2 linked regions of the Homo sapiens genome follow. The protein of the gene in region 2 purifies or fractionates together with the protein of the main gene of each other region. This does not show direct contact. Each region holds a gene or a part of one and is shown on either strand. Other genes may lie near its edges.

Region 1 (9,600 bases), on a different chromosome or scaffold from region 2:
ATGAGCAATCAGTTGAGAATAACTCACTGCCTTTCGACCACCCTCAGATTTATTTTGATGTTAGATAGATCAGATGATCTTTCTAATGGATTAGATGTGAACAGTTAGGGAAAGGGACGATTTAAGGGTGTATCCTGGGCTTTTTACCTGAATAACTGGAGAGATGGTGGTACCGTTTACTGAGATACAGAAGCCTTGAGGAAGAACAGGCTCTGTTTGTATGTATGTGTTTTGGGGAAGTGGAAATAAGAAGAGTGTTCAAATAACTGTTTTGGCTACATTAAAGATCAGGTGCCTATTAGAATTTCAAGTGAAGTGTTGAGTAGACAATTGGATATGTGAGTTTAGAACTCAGCGTAGCTGGACCAGAGATTGAGATTTAGAGTTCAACAACATATAAATAGTTTTAAAAACTAGATAAAGGTGAGACCACCCAGGACAGAGGCCTGGACCTTTATATGAATGCCAACTCTATGCCTGGCACTGATTTAAGTGCTTGGCATACATTGGTAAGTAAAATTGATTGACACAAGATTCATGCTTATATTCTAACGGGAAGGCAGTCAGTACGTAATAAATGTAATAATTATAGTGTGTTAGAGGGTGTTAAATGCTACAGAGAGAAGAAAAAATAGAATAGGGTAAGGAACCAGGGCAGGTTGCAGTGTAGACCAAGCTAAACTGCCAACGAGAAAAGTTTTAATTGGTTCTATGATCTGACCCCAAAATAGAATTTAGGTTTTAAAAAGACTTAGAAAAATATTAGATTTAAATTTTTGATTTTTAAAATTTTCTCACTATATTAAATTAAATGAGCTTCATTGCTTGTTGAGTTGGTACCAAATATGGTAGAATGAAACTGATTCATTTTTGAAAAGAACGAAATTTTTTCCATAAATCTGTAAAGCTACACTAGGAACAGAAAAAGCTTGTAAGGTTATTTGATTGTAATAACAATTACAAATGTCTGTATTAAAAGGCTTGATAGTTCTGAAATGGATCACAGTGAAAATGAAGATTACACAATGTCTTCACCTTTGCCGGGGAAAAAAAGTGACAAGAGAGACGACTCTGATCTTGTAAGGGTGAGATATTTGCATTGATTTTATAATAATATTAATGATAATTTTACTTAGTAATGTTTACACTGAAACCAGTTAACATGACTATCAAATTTACATTTTATTTTATTTTATTTTAGTGGTTTTAACCACAAACCTGAGTTTATAATTATCCTCTATGTAATTTAAGTATATAGAATCTGTGCTTCTTATCAATGTGATAAGTAATCTCAATTGTTCAGATTTTTGGTATTAGACTTGCCAGTTGCATACTCAACTGCTTGGTTTTTGTATTGTTTTCCTCATTTGCTTGTGGTTTTGTTGTTGTTGTTGTTTTTGTTAACATAGGATATTTAGACTTAGCCTTAGAGAAGGGGAATGGAATGAGGACCCTTAAAACTTCTTTCATTTAATTTATTTCTTGAGCCTTTTACTAAATAAGCTGCTGTTAAAGGTAGAAAATGCTATAGTTCTCGTCAAGTCCTTGTTCAGTTTTTAAATCTTAATAGAAATGATAAAATGATAACTTGTATGATAGACAGTTTGTGTTGTTTTAAGACAAATTTGTTAAGTTTTAGCATAGACACAAAATACAGTTATGTCTTCTAACACAACTCAATGGACTTAACTGGGTTTGTTTTGACTTTACAGTTCAGCTTCAGATCATTTCCTTAATAACTAATTAGGCTATCAGAATCAATTTTCTTATCTGTATGTAAATTATGGATACTTAGCTGGTAAGCTTTATCAGAGTAAGTGACTTAGCCAAAATGAATTGCTGCTGCTGTTTCATTGTTACGACTTTTGATTATGGTTATCATAATAATAAAAGTTAAAATGTTCGAATCTACGTGATTAAGAGAGGTGAGAGGTTAACCAAGAAATAATTACTTTTACTTTCTCTAAAATATTACTGCCCATCTTCCACGAGTCCAGCATTACACATGCCAAGAAGTTTATTTTCATGTTTCTCCAATAACTTATTTTGGCAGAGTGTTTATTTCCATTTAGAAAGAATTATTCTTTTTTGTTTTGTTTTGTTTTGTTTTTTGAGACACAGTCTCACTTTGTCGCCCAGGCTGGAGTGCAGTGGCACGATCTGGGCTCACTGCAACCTCCGCTTCCCGGGTTCAGGTGATTCTCTTGCATCACCCTCCTGGGTAACTGGGACCACAGGCATGTGCCAGCATGCGTAGCCAATTTTTGTATTTTTTAAAGGCGGGGTTTCACCATGTTGGCCAGGCTGGTCTCAAACGCCTGATGTCAGGTGATCTGCCTGCCTTGGCCTCCCAAAGTGCTGGGATTACAGGCTTGAGCCATACTGCCCGCTGTGAAAGAATTATTCTAAAATTTTATTGAATTCTAACTATGTATACTGTAAGTTACGATGTTTATTGGCTGTTTAAAATTTTCACATGAGCAAAATTAAGAATTGATCACTTAGCTTGGAAACAATCTTGTTATCTGGATTTACAGAAGAAAATCCTTGAATTGGAAAAGGTATTATGTCTTCTTAGTTCTCACTTACTGCAGAAATTCCTTTATTATTAATGAGAGCTGGTCACCACGTTGAAAATGCTTTAAGCAGAGAGCTCATGATGTATTTCATTTGTTGGAAAAGTCAACTAGGTCACTCATACCCACACCTATAGTGTACTACACTTATACCTTGGTGTTCCCATCCCCCAAAAGTTGGGAAACATGGTTTTTATTAATTCTTAATATTCTGTTATCCTATAAATTTTGCATCTGCTTTTACCTTTTGGGATAGTACAGAACAAAGTCTACTCTATTTTTCATAGAACTGTTTTGAATTTTTGAGCTCTTGAGACCTATTAGTATGATTGTAATGGAGGCCTTTTGCTATTTGTTGTGGCATGGATAATGTGTAACGTTAGGTCCAGTTTTAGAGGTGCTAGAAGAATCTTATTAATAAGCTAGTTTTGACTGAAGTGCCCTCAGAGAGATGAGTATTATGAGACACAAGTTGAATTTAAAGACCAGTAGATTATAATGAAAGAGCACGGTCTCATTTGCTTGTTACCAGCTTCTCATTGAAATTTCACAGCAAAGGAATTATTTTCCATATACGTTTGTATTTAAATATTTAGCTTTATAAATAAAATATTTTCCTGTCTTTTGCTTCTAACCTCGGTTTTATACTCCCTCTGTTCTTAAAACAGTGCAATGCAAAATGAAAAAGAAATAAGTAGTGGTGCTTTAGGAAACTAGATTAGTATTCTCAAGAAAGTAGACATTGGGTTTTCTTTTTACCACCAACCTTTTCCAGAGCTTAAAGGAAATCATCTACCTTTTTAGATCTTTGGACATCAAAAAGAATTATAGTAATTAAAATAAGAAGTGACATTTTAAATTTAGTTCTAATTTAACATTTCTTTTACCTTCTTATCTTTGAGTAAAAACAGTTAATTTTTAATTTGTGCACAAAACTCTAAATAAATAAAACAAACTAAATCCAGTCATGTATAGATCTTCCCCTCTCCTTAGAATGTAAGGATAGCTTAATGTTACCAAATCTTTTACTATGATAGTATATTAAATAAACCAAAGGGAAAACCAAAAACAAAATAATTTCAGATCATGCCAAGAGGACATAAATAAAACTTAAGATCCGTTCTTGACAAATAGGAACTTTTAGTAAACTAGTACCAGAAGGATACATCTTTAATGTGCTAAAAGTTTTGTCTATTTTAAATCAGTAGTCAATGCCATTCTTCCTAAAGGCAAAATACTTGAAGCATTCTTTTTAAAAATCAGGAACAAAACAAGCAACCTGCTGTCACCACTGTTTTTAAAAATTGCTCTAGAATGTTTGACCAATTGTTATTTTTGTAATCTTAGAAAAATAAAAGAAGCAATTGAAAATCTATCCCTACCTATGTATATATTTATGTTTGTAACTAACATTACTCTGATAATTTTGGTTTGTATCAGATGTACATTTAGGGGAAAAGGGATTATTTTCTTCATCACAAGAACCAGTGCAACAACAAACATAGATTGACTGATTGACAGATTCATAGATTTAAATATAACCTTTAAAAGAAATAGGGAGTACCTATATGTAGAAAATCTCAAAACTGAGATAGGGAGGACCTATATGTAGAAAATCTCAAAACTGGAAGACTTGAAGAGAGAGAAGACAGGCCATGTTCTTGTATAGGAGAAAGGAATAAAAAAGGATGAAAGTTTTTTTCAACTGAATATATAATTGCAAAATTCCAGCATGGTTTTGTTTCAAGTCTATGTGGAGGAATAAATAAATATAAAAGGAGGAGAAATAAAGGTAGGTTCAGCCCTACCAGATACATAATTATACTTAGTAAAATATTGTGCTTCTGTTATGATAGCCCAGAAATATTATTCTTGTTCAAAACATATAAAATAAAGGAAGCACTACAAATCATTGATTCTGAAATGGTTGGATGTGTCTTTGGGAGTGGAAAATCCAGTTTAGAATCTCATCTCACATTCTGTTCTAAAACAATACACAATAATGTCTTAGTCAGCTCAAGCTGCCATTATAAAATACCAAATACCACAGACTGGGTAGCTTAAACAACAGAACTATATTTTCTTACAGTTCTGGAGGCTGGAAGTACAAGATCAAGGTGCCAGCAGATTTGGTTCCTGATGAGGGCTGTCTTCCTGGGTTACAGATGCCACCTTCTCCTGTGTCCTCACATGAGAGGTGTGGGGTGGGAGGAAGAAGAAAGGCACCCAAGCTCACTGATGTTTCCTCTTATAAGGACACTAATCTCATCATGAGGGTGCCACCTCATGACCTCATCTCAACGAAATACCTCCCAAAGGCCCCATCTCCAAATACTGTCACATTGGGATTAGAGCTTGAACATACAATTTTTTTCTTTGGTGGTGGGGGCCACAATTCAGTCCAAAGCAAGTAAGAAATAACACTTAAAGGACAGGTGCAATGACACCTGTAATCCCAGCACTTTGGGAGGCCGAGGCAGGCGGATCACCTGAGTTTAGGAGTTTGAAACCAGCCTGGCCAACACGGCAAAACCCCATCTCTGCTAAAAATACAAAAATTAGCCACGCATGGTGGCACATGCCTCTAGTCCCAGCTACTCGGGAGGCTGAGGCAAGAGAATCGCTTGAACCCGGGAGGCAGAGGTTGCAGTGAGCCAAGATTGACCCACTGCACTCCAGCCTGGGTGACAGAGCGAGACTCTGTCTCAAAAAAAAAAAAAAGAAAAAAAAAAAAAGCTGGGTGCAGTGGCTCATGCCTGTAATCCCAGCACTTTGGGAGGCCGAGGCGGGCGGATCACAAGGTCAGGAGATTGAGACCATCCTGGCTAACACGGTGAAACCCCGTCTCTACTAAAAAAATACAAAAAAAAAAAAAAAAAAAAAAATTAGCCAGGCGTGGTTGCAGACACCTGTAGTCCCAGCTACTCGGGAGAAGGCTGAGACAGGAGAATGGCGTGAACCTGGGAGGCGGAGCTTGCAGTGAGCAGAGATGGTGCCACTGCACTCCAGCCTGGGTGACAGAGTGAGACTCCATCTCAAAAATAATAAAAGATAATATTAATAATAAAGAAATAACACTTAAAAATAAGCATAGAGGCATACACAAAAGCATAGAGGAATATAGAGAAAACCCACTAACACCGCAGTAGTCAAAGTTGACAAAGGACACAATACGAAGGATGTAATTAGGCAGTTCACATACAGGAAGCTCAATTTAAAGTTAGAAAAAGTTACAGATAATTCGATAGTTTTTGTTGTTTTCAGTGATTTTTGAAAATATAAATTGCGCAGACTTTTGGAAATTAACTTTGTATTATAAGTGTTCATACATACAATTTATTCTTGGGTCTTTGGAGAATTTCTTCAGCCTTCACGCTGGTTCACATATAGATTCTCTGAATATAGACTAGGATTTTATTTTAAATGTGAAAGCCACTGGTTTTTTGTTGTTTCTGTTGTTAATCAGTTAGTTATACCTAGAAAGAAGCAGTATTTCTAATTCAGAAGTGTTTCCAAAATTTATAATAAATGATGAATATGTTTACCTTTTGTATCTTGCAACCTCCATTTGTAAAATAATAGTTCTTTTATGATGTTGTAAGCATGTCATATAGTTAATATTTTATGTCTTACGCACTATGTGGTAAAATTAGAATTACTTAAATTGACTATCCAAACAGATACTTTAGTATAGTTGTCATTTAGGACCAAGCACTGAATTTATAATGCTCTTTTTAATGAGATAGCTCTTCACTAAAATTTATAATTTAGTAAGATACTGATCTTGAGAGGTTTCCTTTTAAGACACTCTAGCTGAAAAGTAAGAGTGCAAATGTACCCTTTTATCCCAGATAAGTTTTTAAAATTAAAAACTATAATAAAAGCAAATAAATACAGTTCTGGTGTATTTAAGAGCTGTATATTTTAGGTACATATCTAGGACAACATTAGATAACAGATTTTTTTGTTTCATTCCTCAAAATATGTATACTCACAATTTCATAACCATAAATTGTGATTTTTTTTTTCCCCTAGTCTGAATTGGAGAAGCCTAGAGGCAGGAAAAAAACGCCCGTCACAGAACAGGAGGAGAAATTAGGTATGGATGACTTGACTAAGTTGGTACAGGAACAGAAACCTAAAGGCAGTCAGCGAAGTCGGAAAAGAGGCCATACGGCTTCAGAATCTGATGAACAGCAGTGGCCTGAGGAAAAGAGGCTCAAAGAAGATATATTAGAAAATGAAGATGAACAGAATAGTCCGCCAAAAAAGGGTAAAAGAGGCCGACCACCAAAACCTCTTGGTGGAGGTACACCAAAAGAAGAGCCAACAATGAAAACTTCTAAAAAAGGAAGCAAAAAAAAATCTGGACCTCCAGCACCAGAGGAGGAGGAAGAAGAAGAAAGACAAAGTGGAAATACGGAACAGAAGTCCAAAAGCAAACAGCACCGAGTGTCAAGGAGAGCACAGCAGAGGTAAGCATGTGTAACTCTAAACTGCATCTGTTTCGTTACTATATTATAAATCATAATTTGATGCTATCCACATTTGGGTCTTCCCCAAAGCAGAGCAGAATCTCCTGAATCTAGTGCAATTGAATCCACACAGTCCACACCACAGAAAGGACGAGGAAGACCATCAAAAACGCCATCACCATCACAACCAAAAAAAAATGTGTAAGTTGTAAATATTACATTTCAAACCAATTTCAAATTATTTTGCAAAAGTTCCTAAATTTGTAAACATACATATTGCTGTATTTAAATTCCATATATTTAGCCCCATTACACTAGGTAAGATAAAATTTTTATAAACTTACCTTAGTGATTGATATCTCAATAAACTATCTTGTACATTTTTACAGGTGCAGGCAAATCTTCATAAATGAATACCAAATAGTATATTATTTCCTATACAGACTTTATGATATCTAAAGAAATCATAAGGTATTTTTAAATAATCACCACACATTGACCAGGTTGCCTTGTCATTCCACACTACAATTTTTTTTTTAAATGTTTCTCATTAGCACCTTTTCCTTTAAAAAAAGGAAAATAGGTCTTATGCTTCTGCTTTTATTCTTTGAACTTGTAGTAGGAAAGTAACAGGTACCATTTTTTAAAAATTATATCCATAGAAATTAACACATGTTGGTCTCAAGTGTTTGATATCTTGATTTTGTTTGTTTTCTAACCCAGTTCATTTATCTACATCAACATGTATATAGTTTTAGATGTTCACACAAACACATTTATAAGAGAGGTACAGTAAGAATCTGTACCTCAAATTTTAGTGTCACCAGAGTATCACTGCTGTAATTTGCAGATCTGACAGTGTTTTTTCTCCTTAGTTATGTGAGTGGAAATAGAGTAGCATGTCTTCTATTAGTCAGAAATTTAACACTTTTTCTGAGAGTAATCCCACCCATACATAATTACATCATGGCTCGACTTTTCAGAGTTGCCAATGTACTGTCATTAAATACTCAATTATCTTAGAGATTTTCCTATTCCTGTGTATTCCACAGGAAGAGGAAAAGTTGCCTGGGTGTCTAGCCAGTACTTCATGCCATCTTCCATGTAATTTTTCTATCAGGTTAAAAGTAAAGGTAAGTACATTTTTGTGGCAGCTTTATAAATGTGTTTGGATTCAACCAAATCACTATTTCTAAACAAAGGATTCTTAAGGAATCCTTTATTTAATAAAATACACATGAATGATGTAACAAGGAAATAACAAACCTCATAATTTTAGTTTGTTTATATTTGGACATCATAAAATTCAGGGTTTAAATGATTATTGTGCTCTCCTAAAATTACACAAGTCCTATGAATGTTCTAAACCAAACAAGTATTTCTTAAAAAAAAAAAAAAATTGATATGGAAGAAGATTCTGTAGTCTGTCTTGGAAGCCTATCTTCCTTTCACTGGGAAGCTCTTTCTAGAGCTAGTATACTAACATATGTTAGGATTTGTTTCTTTTTCTTGTTCTGACCTCAGTGAAATTGAAAAAGATTGTCATTATGTTTCATGTTATTTCTATAGTTTCATTAATCTCGAAAAACCAAACCAAGTAAAAAAATTGTTTGGTTCGAGCGTGAGTTAAAAAAATACATATTTTGGATTGCTTATAGAAGTGATGTTATGTTTCTAATTTTAAAAAATAAAGATTTATCAAGAGGGATCCATTTGATTAGATGGTTCTATTACATATTTTTTGATGCCTCCTGTGTTTCAGAGAGTACTAGGTGCTAGGGACACAAAACAGACGTGGTACTTGTTTTCATGGGCTCGTGGTTCTTGTTTTCCACCATCTAATGGAGTGAGGAAGTTTTTTCTTTAAAAGTAACAATGAGTTGATATCTTGAGAATAGTAGGGGCTAGACAGGCAGAGAACAGGTGGCATGAACACTATATTTGAAGTTTCTGAAGTGAAAAATAACTTGGCAAAATCAGAAAGCTAAAGGAAGGCAAGGGTTTGTTGGATTGTAGTTGTGGGGAGTTGGGGAGCAGAAAGAGATGAGAGTGGACAGGTAGGCAAGGACCATCTACTGTTCCTTGTATACTTTGTTAAGGAGGTTTACAAAATTATTCTCAGCTCAGTAGGGAGCAGTAACATCATCTGTTCTTGTACTTTTAAAAGATAACTTTGTAAAGAGAAGAGGCAAGAGATGGGAATGGTTTGAATTAGGTGGTAGCAATGGAGATGTGGAGAGAAGTGAATGGATTTGAGATCTCCATAAGAATCTATAAGGCCAGACAAAGACAGGTACACTATATTCAAAGCAGAATTCCTTTCTGCTTTGAGCAGCTCAGTAGACATAGATGCCTTTTACTGTGTTAGGAAAGATGAAAGGAAGAGCAGACTTTAGGTTATGGTATGTTCTCAGTCACATTTTTTTGTTGTTACTTGGTAGATAATATGTAACATTCTATGATTAAATGCTGGTTTAGGATTCAGAATATTAAAGAAATGTTCTTGTCTCATAAAGTAACTGAGGGTAAAGATGATATGACGATGAAAT
Region 2 (9,600 bases):
AAAAAAAAAAAAAAAAAAAGCAGTGCAAAAATCAGCTGGGTATGGTGGCGTGTGCCTACAGTCCCAGCTACTAGGGAGGCCGAGGTGCGAGAATCACTAGAGTCTGGGAAGGTCGAGGCTGCAGTGAACGGGGATTGCATCATTGCACTCCAGCCTGGGTGACAGAGTGAGAACCTGTCTCCAAAAATAAAATAGAAAAGTAAAGAGTTAGAGAAAAACTGCCTAAAACGCCCACCCTAACTGCTGTCATCCGGTTGCCACTCCCAGGGCAAAGCGGGCTGGGCAAGTCCACGATGGTGAACACGCTGTTCAAGTCCAAAGTGTGGAAGTCAAACCCACCGGGCTTGGGGGTGCCCACACCCCAGACGCTGCAGCTGCATTCACTGACCCATGGTGAGTGAGCCCCTGCCCACACCTCACCCCACCCTGCCCCACCCCATCCCACCTGGGTCCAGTCTCTCCCGACTCTGCTCTCCCTCCACAGTCATAGAGGAGAAGGGTGTGAAGCTGAAGCTGACGGTGACGGACACGCCCGGCTTCGGGGACCAGATCAACAATGACAACTGGTAGGTTCTCTCTCTTTTTTTTTTTTTTTAGGCAGAGTTTCACTCTTGTCACCCAGGCTGGAGTGCAATGGCATGATCTCGGCTCACTGCAACCTCCACCTCCCAGGTTCAAGTGATTCTCCTGCCTCAGCCTCCCGAAGTAGCTGGGATTACAGGCGCCCGCCACCACGCCCAGCTAATTTTTTTTGTATTTTTAGTTGAGATGGGGTTTCACCATGTTGGCCAGGCTGGTCTTGAACTCCTGACCTCAGATGATCCACCCGCCTCGGCCTCCCAAAGTGCTGGGATTACAGGCATGAGCCACTGTGCCCGCAACAAGTGGTGGGTTCTCAAAGGTGGGGGCCAAGCCATGGCTGTCCCCTCCTGTCCGTGCCCCTCCCCCTTCAACCTTTGGGAAACACCCCAGACCTGGAACAGCCAGGCTGTGTGATCTTTTTTTTTTTTGAGACAGAATCTAGCTCTTGTCGCCCAGGCCAGAGTGCAGTGACACAATCTCGGCTCACTGCAACCTCTGCCTCCTGGGTTCAAGCAATTTCCGGCTAATTTTTTTTTTTTTTAAGACAGACTCGCTCTTGTCACCCAGGCCAGAGTGCAGTGGCACAATCTCTGCTCACTGCAACCTCCGCCTCCCGGGGTTCAAGCAATTCTCCTGCCTCAGCCTCCCAAGTAGCTGGGATTACAGACATCCGCCAACACGCTCGGCTACTTTTTTGAATTTATTTAGTAGAGACGGGGTTTCACCACGTTGGCCAGGCTGGTCTCAAACTCCTGACCTCGGGTGGTCCGCCCACCTCAGTCTCCCAAAGTGCTGGGATTACAGGTGTGAGCCACTGCACCCGGCCCAATTTTTGTATTTTTAGTAGAGACGGGGATTTCCCCATGTTGGCCAGGCTGGTCTCGAACTACTGACCTCAGGTGATCCACTTGCTTCAGCCTCCCAAAGCACTGGGATTACACGCATAAGCCACCGCACCTGGCCCTGGTTTCATTTTATTTATTTATTTATTTATTTATTTATTTATTTATTTATTTATTTAGAGACAGTGTCTCAGTCTGTTTCCCAGGCTGGAGTGCAGTGGCGAGATCATGGCTCACTGCAGCCTTGACCTCCCCAAGCTCAAGGACCCTCCTGCCTCAGCCTCCTGAGTAGCTGTGACCACAGGCACGTGCCACCCCACCGAGCTAATTTGTGTATTTTTTGTAGAGTTGGCGTTTCCCCATGTTGCCCAGGCTAGCCTCGAATTCCTGGGCTCGAGCGATCCTCCTGCCTCCGCCTCCCAAAGTGCTGGGATTACAGGCATGAGCCATCGGGCCTGGCCTGACACCTGTTTTTAAAAGGATCTGTTTGGCTACTTACAGTGTTGACAATACCCAAGAGGGGAAGGGACTCGAAGAGGAGGAGGGAGACCCCTGCAACCATCAGGCGCGATTCCTTGGTGGTTTGGGCCCAGCTGTGGCCCTTTAATACAGTTAATGCTCACCCCTCCCTTACTTGCAACGTAGGTGCTACTATTGTCTCCATTTTACAGACAGTGAAGCCGAGAATGGCAGGAGGTCTCCCTGTGTGTCTCTGATGATGCAGGGAAGTGGGGGAAAGTACCGGGGTGACCCACAGGTCCCGGGCCAACCGGGACGATTCGTCGTCCCAAGGGAGGACCGCCCAGAGGACACAGAGGAGAGGGGTGGGGCTCTCTGGGCACAGCACAGTTCTGAGGGGAGGGTCCACCTCCCGCCTCAGCTGGGACCCCATCCTGGGCTACATCAACGAGCAATACGAGCAGTACCTGCAGGAGGAGATCCTCATCACCCGCCAGCGCCACATCCCAGACACCCGGGTGCACTGCTGCGTGTACTTTGTACCACCCACTGGGCACTGGTGAGGGGGCTGCACCTGCAAGGCGAGGACCACCTGCACGGGGCAGGGAGGAGGAGAAGGGGTCCCCACCATGGGCTGCCGGCTGCCCCCACCCCCGTGCCCTGCTGCTGTCGTTTATACACTCACCACCACCGCCACCCCCATCACTGCCCTGCCTCCGGCAGCCTGCGGCCCCTGGACATTGAGTTCCTGCAGCGGCTGTGCCGGACTGTGAATGTGGTGCCCGTGATTGCCAGGGCCGACAGCCTGACCATGGAGGAGCGAGAGGCCTTCAGGCGCAGGGTGATCTGGATGCCCGGGCAGGGCTGGGGTCAGCGGGGGCAGAGGGCAGAGTGGGCAGGGTGGGCTGAGGTCACCTGTGTGGGATCTCCAGATCCAGCAGAACCTGAGGACCCACTGCATCGACGTCTACCCCCAGATGTGCTTTGACGAGGACATCAATGACAAAATCCTCAACAGCAAGTTACGGGTGAGAGGCTGTGGGGCGGGAGGCGGGCGAGGTGATTTCCTTCCCACACATCCTTTCCATCCAAAGACTCATCTTTCTCTACATCTCAGGGAAATGTGCACATATTCCTAGCAGATATGATTCTCTACTCATCCACAAGCTCAAGGTGAGCAAGAAATAACAGCTCACACTAACAACCCACAGAATCGGAGAAAATGTCTGCGAATCACATACCCAATAAGGGGCTTGTATCCTGAATATATAGAGAACATTGGGCCGGGCACAGTGGCTCACGCCTGTAATCCCAGCAGTTTGGGAGGCCGAGGCAGGCAGATCGCTTGAGGTCAGGAGTTGGAGACCAGCCTGGCCAACATGGTGAAACCTTGTCTCTGCCAAAAATGCAAAAAATTGGCTGGGTGTGGTGGTGCACGCCTTTAGTCCCAGCTACTCAGGAGGCTGAAGCGGGAGAATTTTGAAACTGGGAGGCAGAGGTTGCAGTGAGTGAGCTGAGATGGCGCCATTGCACTCCAGCCTGGGCAAGAAGAGTGAAACTCCATCTCAGAAAAAAAAAATGTGTTGGCCGGGCGCAGTGGCTCAGCCCTGTAATCCCTGCACTTTGGGAGGCCGAGGTGGGTGGATCACCTGAGGTCAGGAGTTCGAGACCAGCCTGGCCAACATGACGAAACCCCGTCTCTACTAAAAATACAAGAAATCAGCTGGGCGTGGTGGTGGGTGCCTGTAAGCCCAGCTACTCAGGAGGCTGAGGCAGGAGAATCGGTTGAATCTTGGAGGTGGAGGTTACGGTGAGCCGAGATTGCGCCACTGCACCCCAGCCTGGGCAACAAGAGCAAAACTCCAGCTTAAAAAAAAAAGTGCTGTGGAAGATGTGGAGGAACTGAAACCCTCACCTACTGCTGGAGGGAAAGTAAAATGGCTCAGCCACTTTGGAAAACAGTCTGGTGGTTCCTCAAATGCTTAAACATGCAGTTACTCTATGACCCAGCAACTGAACTCCTACGTGTATACCCAAAAGAAACAAAAATGTACATTCACAGAAAAATGTGTACGTGAATGTTCACAGCAGCATTATTTATTTTAGCCCCGAAAGTGGAAGCAACCCAAATATGCATCAACAGATGAGTGGGGAAACACAGTGCGGCCTATTCCCTACCATGGACTATCCCTTAACCATGAAAAGCAATGAAGTTCACCCTTTAAAAGTGTACAGTTCAAGGCTGGGCTCAGTGGCTCATGCCTGTAATCCCAGCACTTTGGGAAGCTGAGGTGGGCAGATCACTTGCGGCCAGGGGTTCGAGACCAGCCTGGCTAACATGGTGAAACTCTGTCTCTACTAAAAATACAAAATTAGCTGCGTGTGGTGGCACGCACCTGTAATCCCAGCTACTGGGGAGACTGAGGCAGGAGAATTGCTTGAACCTGGAAGGTGAAGGTTGCAGTGAGCAGAGATTGTGACACTGCACTCCAGCCTGGGCAAGGGAGTGAGACCCTGTCTCAAAAAAAAAAAAAAAAAAAAAAAAAGGCCGGGCACGGTGGCTCACACCTGTAATCCCAGCACTTTGGGCGGCTGAGGTGGGCAGATTACCTGAGGTCGGGAGTTCGAGACCAGCCTGACCGACATGGAGAAATCCCGTCTCTCCTAAAAATACAAAATTAGCCGGGTGTGGTGGTGCATGCCTGTAATCCCAGCTACTTAGGAGGCTGAGGCAGGAGAATCACTTGAACCCAGGAGATGGAGATTGCAGTGAGCTGAGATCACACCGTTGCACCCCAGCCTGGGCAAGGGAGTGAGACCCTGTCTCAAAAAAAAAAAAAAAAATGAAGCACTGTCACCCTGTCACCTGCCTGCTACAGCGTGGGGGAACCTTGTAAACATGTTTCTCAGACAAAAATCAGTCAGACACAAAAGGTCACGTATTATGGGATTCCATTTATATGAAATGTCCCAAATAGGCATAGGCAAATCTATAGAGACAGAAAGTAGATTGGTGGTAGTCAGGGGCTGTGGGGAAGGGAGAAATGGGGAGTGATTGCTAAAAGGTATGGGGTTTTTTTGGGGGGACGTGATGAAAACGTTGTGAAATTAGATTGCGATGATGGTTGCATAACCCTGGTCAAATACTAAAAACCCCCGTACCGTACAATGTTTTGTTTGTTTTGTTTTTAATGTTGTTTTTTTTATGAGATAGGGTCTTTTTTTTTTTTTTAGATGGAGTCTCCCTCTGTCACCCAAGCTGGAGTATAGTGGCGTGATCTCCGCTCACTGCAACCCCTGCCTCCTGGGTTCAAGCGATTCTCCTGCCTCAGCCTCCTGAGTAGCTGGGACTATAGGTGCACAATACCACGCCTGGCTAATTATTGTCTTTTTGGTAGAGATGGGGTTTCACTATTTCAGCCAGGGTGATCTCGATCTCCTGACCTTGTGATCCACCCATCTCAGCCTCCCAAAGTGCTGGGATTATAGGCGTGAGCCACCGTGCCCAGCAGAGACAGGGTCTTGTTCTGTGGCCCAGGCTGGGGTGCAGTGGCAGGATCTCCGTTCACAGCAACCTCCAACCTCCTGGGTTCAGGTGATTCTCCCACCTCAGCCTCCTGAGTAGCTGGGATTACAGGCATGCGCCACCACACCCAGCTAATTTTTTATTTTTCCTAGAGACAGGGTTTCACCATGTTGACCAGGCTGGTCTTGAAGTCCTGACCTCAGGTGATCTGCCTGCCTTCACCTCCCAAAATGCTAGGATTACAGGTGTGAGCCACCACGCCCAATATTATCAACATCCACATTACTCCCCATCACAGATGAATTCAGAAGTAAAAACCCATATATGTCACTTCGGAGTTTGCAAGTTTGAATTTCTGCTTCTGGCCATGAGCAAGTAAACAACTGGAGTTTACGGTAGGGTTCAACAACCTTTTCTGCAAAGGGCCAGGTAGTAAATGTTTTAGACTTTCTGGGCCGTAGGGTCTCTGTTGTGATGATTCAACTCTGATGTCATGGTTCAAGAGCAGCCATAGACAAAAATGACTCATAGGCTCAACTATGTGCCAATAAAACTTTATATATAGGAAGACAGGCAGGCTGGGTGTGGTAGCTCACTCCTATAATCCCACCACTTTGGAAGGCAGAGGCGGGAGGATCACTTGAGCCCAGGAGTTAGAGACCAGCCTGGGCAACACAGAGAACTCATCTCTACTAAAAATGTTTAAAAAGTAGCCAGGCATGGTGGTGCACACCTATGGTCCTCACTCCTCAGGGGACTGAGGCGGGGATATCACTTGAGCCCAGGAGGTCAAGGCTGCAGTGAGCTATGGGATTATAGGTGTGAGCTATATAATACGCTATATAATATAATGGGATTATAAGCTCAGCTAATTTTTTAGTTTTTGCAGAGATGGCCTTTCACCATGTTGCCCAGGCTGGTCTCAAACTCCTAGGGCTCAAGTGATCCTCCCACCTCGGCCTCCTAAAGTGCTGAAATTACAGGCAAGAGCTACCTCACTCAGCCAGAGGCACCAATTAGACTTTATGTCTTTGAACTTGGGAATTCTGTGCACTTTCTACCATGTTCCCTCCTCGAAAAGGATAGGACTCCCCTCTCCTGCCTGGGTGCCTTGACTTTTCTTCTCTTCTCCCCAGCGAAGTCAATCCTCCCATCTCTGTGTCTTCTCCTTTCCCAGGACCGAATCCCTTTTGCCGTGGTAGGGGCTGACCAAGAGCACCTGGTGAACGGGAGGTGTGTCCTGGGCCGGAAGACCAAGTGGGGCATCATTGAAGGTCAGTGCGGGGCCCCTGGGTAGGATGCAGGTGGGGTCAGTTTGGAAACCAGAGCAGCCTTGGGCAACCTTCGCACCCATCACAGGGCACAGAAAGGTGAAGCCCACTAGACAAAGAGCCCTGGGGAATGGTCCCTCTTTCCAGCTGGGAGGCTGTGGCAAGTTTCCGGACCCTCTGGGCCTCAGTTTCCTCACAGTAAAGTGGGCATCACAGTGCATCAACTTCCTAGGGTGTTGGAGCGGGGAGAACCACCATTTTGCACAATGCCCAATACCCAAGGCTGCCCTAGTGGCTGGCCGGAAATTACGATGGGCCTACTGTGTATCAGGCACCGCTATGTGCAGTTACTGCAGTGCACGGTAAAGGGAGGACTGACAGGGTCCCTGTCCCCATAGAGCTGACAGGACAAGGACAGGTCGGGGAGGCACAGTGAAGGCGATTGTGGCGGGAGGGAGAGGAGACTGCCTTAGGGAGCTAGGGAAAGTGACACAGGAGGGGCAGCGAGGATGTAGCCCCTGATGTATTATTATTATTTTTTATTTTTATTTTTTTGAGATGGAGTCTCGCAGTGTCACCCGAGCTGGAGTGCGGTGGCGTGATCTCGGCTCACTGCAACCTCCGCCTCCTGGGTTCAAGTGATTCTCCTGTCTCAGCCTCCCAAAGAGCTGGGATTACAGGCACCTGCCACCACGCCCAGCTAATTTTTTGTATGTTTATGAGAGACGGGGTTTCACTATGTTGCCAGGCTGGTCTCAAACTCCTGACCTCGTGATCTGCCCGCCTCGGCCTCCCAAAGTGCTGGGATTACAGGCGTGTGCCACCGCGCCCGGTCAGGTGATGTATTATTATAATTATTAGAAATATTCTATACTATATATATATATTTTTTTGAGACAGAGTCTTGCTTTGTCACTCAGGCTGGAGTGCAGTGGAGCGATCTTGGCTCACTGCAACTTCCGCCTCTCAGGTTCAAGCGATTCTCCTGCCTCAGCCTCCCAAATAGCTGGGACTACAGATTATACCACCACACCCGGCTAATTTTTGTATTTTTAGTAGAGACGGGGCTTCACTATGTCGTCCAGGCTGGTCTCAAACTCCTGACCTCAGGTGATCCACCCAACTCAGCCTCCCAAACTGCTGGGATTATAGGCGTGAGCCACCGCGCCCAGCCAGAAATATACTATACTATTGCCTATGATATAGCACCCATGCTATCCGCAGAGGGTGGTTCCAGGACCCCCAGGGATACCAAAATCGGCAGATGCTCAAGTCCTACAGTGGGCACCCATGGATACAGAGGCCGAGTGTACATATAATACAATAATGATTGGTGGATTCATTCATTCTACAGCTATTTGTAGGAGCCGCCTGTACCAGGCACTGGGAACACAACAGTGGGTGAATGAATGAATGAACCAACAAAGGGAAGGCAGGATAGGGTAAAGAGAAATGTGGGAAAAGGGCTAAGGGAAATGGTGTCAGGTGGTGCATACAGTAGGCACTTACTCAGTGCTCACTAAGCAGCGCCCATACTGAGTCCCATGTCTTGCAGTGGAGAACATGGCGCACTGTGAATTTCCTCTCCTGAGAGACCTGCTTATCCGGTGAGGGTGTGGGGAGCCTGGGGCTAGGGGGCTGGCGAGGGGCCCTGGGGACACCACCATCGGGGCTGACCGTCTCCGGTCCCCCAGCTCCCACCTCCAAGACCTGAAGGACATAACCCACAACATCCACTATGAGAACTACCGCGTCATCAGACTCAATGAAAGCCACCTGCTGCCCCGCGGGCCCGGCTGGGTGAACCTGGCCCCGGCCTCCCCAGGACAGCTGACCACCCCCCGGACCTTCAAGGTCTGCAGGGGGGCCCATGACGATTCTGATGATGAGTTCTGACCACCGGCGGATCCCGGGGCTGCTGGGCTTCCTGAGTCCCCAGCGGCTCTCAACACACACCTATGTACCAGAGCATCTATTAAATGTGAGCCTTGCTTTTTATGAAAAGCTGTGCTTTGAAAACAAAAGGCATTTTGTAAATGACTTCTTTGAGCTATCCACAAATAAAAAGGCTGGGTGTCACTCTGTTACCCAGGCTGGAGTACAGTGGCGCAATCATGACTCACTGCAGCCTCAAATTTCTGGGCTCAAGTGATCCTCCTGCCTCAGCCTCTCAAGTAGCCAAGACTATGGGCATGACACCACCTTGATGGGCTGATTTTTACCATTTTTTTTTGTAGAGATAAGGCCTCACTAGGTTGCTCAGGCTGGTCTTTAGCTGACCTCAGGTGATCCTTCCGCCTCAGCCTTCCAAAACACTGGGATTACCACTGCTGCCAACCAAGTATGTTTTTGTGGTGGTTGTTGGTTGTTGTTTCTGAGATGGAGTTTTCTGGGGTTTTTTTTTTTTTGTTTTGTCTTGTTTTTTGAGATGGAGTTTCGCTCTTGTTGCCCAGGCTGGAGTGCGATGGCGTGATCTCGGCTCGCTACAACCTCTGCCTCCCGGGTTCAAGTCATTCTCCTGCCTCAGCATCCCAGGTAGCTGGGGACTACAGGCATACACCATCATGCCTGGCTAATTTTTGTATTTTTAGTAGAGATGGGGTTTCACCATGCTGGCCAGGCTGGTCTTGAACTGACCTCAAGTGATCCACCGGCCTCGGCCTCCCAAAGTGCTGGGATTACAGGCATGAGCCACTGCACTCAGCCTCTGAGATGGAGTTTCACTCTGTCGCACTGGCTGAAATGCAGTGGCATGATCTGGGCTCATTGCAACCTCTGCTTCCCGGGTTTAAGAAATTCTCCTGCCTCAGCCTCCCGCGTAGCTGGGATTACAGGTGCCCACCACCACGCCCAGCTAATTTTGTGTTTTTAGTGGAGACGGGGTTTCACCACGTTGGCCAGGCTAGTCTCAAATTCCTGA

Evidence for each region.
Region 1: the proteins of SEPTIN12 (region 2) and PDS5B purify together in Homo sapiens (affinity purification with mass spectrometry; 3 studies listed by BioGRID and IntAct, with this or other methods). This does not show direct contact.

The regions. Positions count from the first base shown.
Region 1 is NC_000013.11:32,763,510-32,773,109, forward strand, and holds part of PDS5B (sister chromatid cohesion protein PDS5 homolog B), read left to right. Parts: intron 1-979; coding exon 980-1,085; intron 1,086-6,611; coding exon 6,612-7,051; intron 7,052-7,141; coding exon of another isoform or gene 7,142-7,144; coding exon 7,145-7,252; intron 7,253-9,600. UniProt on the Homo sapiens protein: Regulator of sister chromatid cohesion in mitosis which may stabilize cohesin complex association with chromatin. May couple sister chromatid cohesion during mitosis to DNA replication.
Region 2 is NC_000016.10:4,776,773-4,786,372, reverse strand, and holds the end of SEPTIN12 (septin-12), read left to right. Parts: intron 1-267; coding exon 268-393; intron 394-484; coding exon 485-566; intron 567-2,304; coding exon 2,305-2,442; intron 2,443-2,606; coding exon 2,607-2,724; intron 2,725-2,815; coding exon 2,816-2,911; intron 2,912-6,586; coding exon 6,587-6,683; intron 6,684-8,235; coding exon 8,236-8,287; intron 8,288-8,374; coding exon 8,375-8,576; 3' UTR 8,577-8,767; downstream 8,768-9,600. UniProt on the Homo sapiens protein: Filament-forming cytoskeletal GTPase. Involved in spermatogenesis. Involved in the morphogenesis of sperm heads and the elongation of sperm tails probably implicating the association with alpha- and beta-tubulins.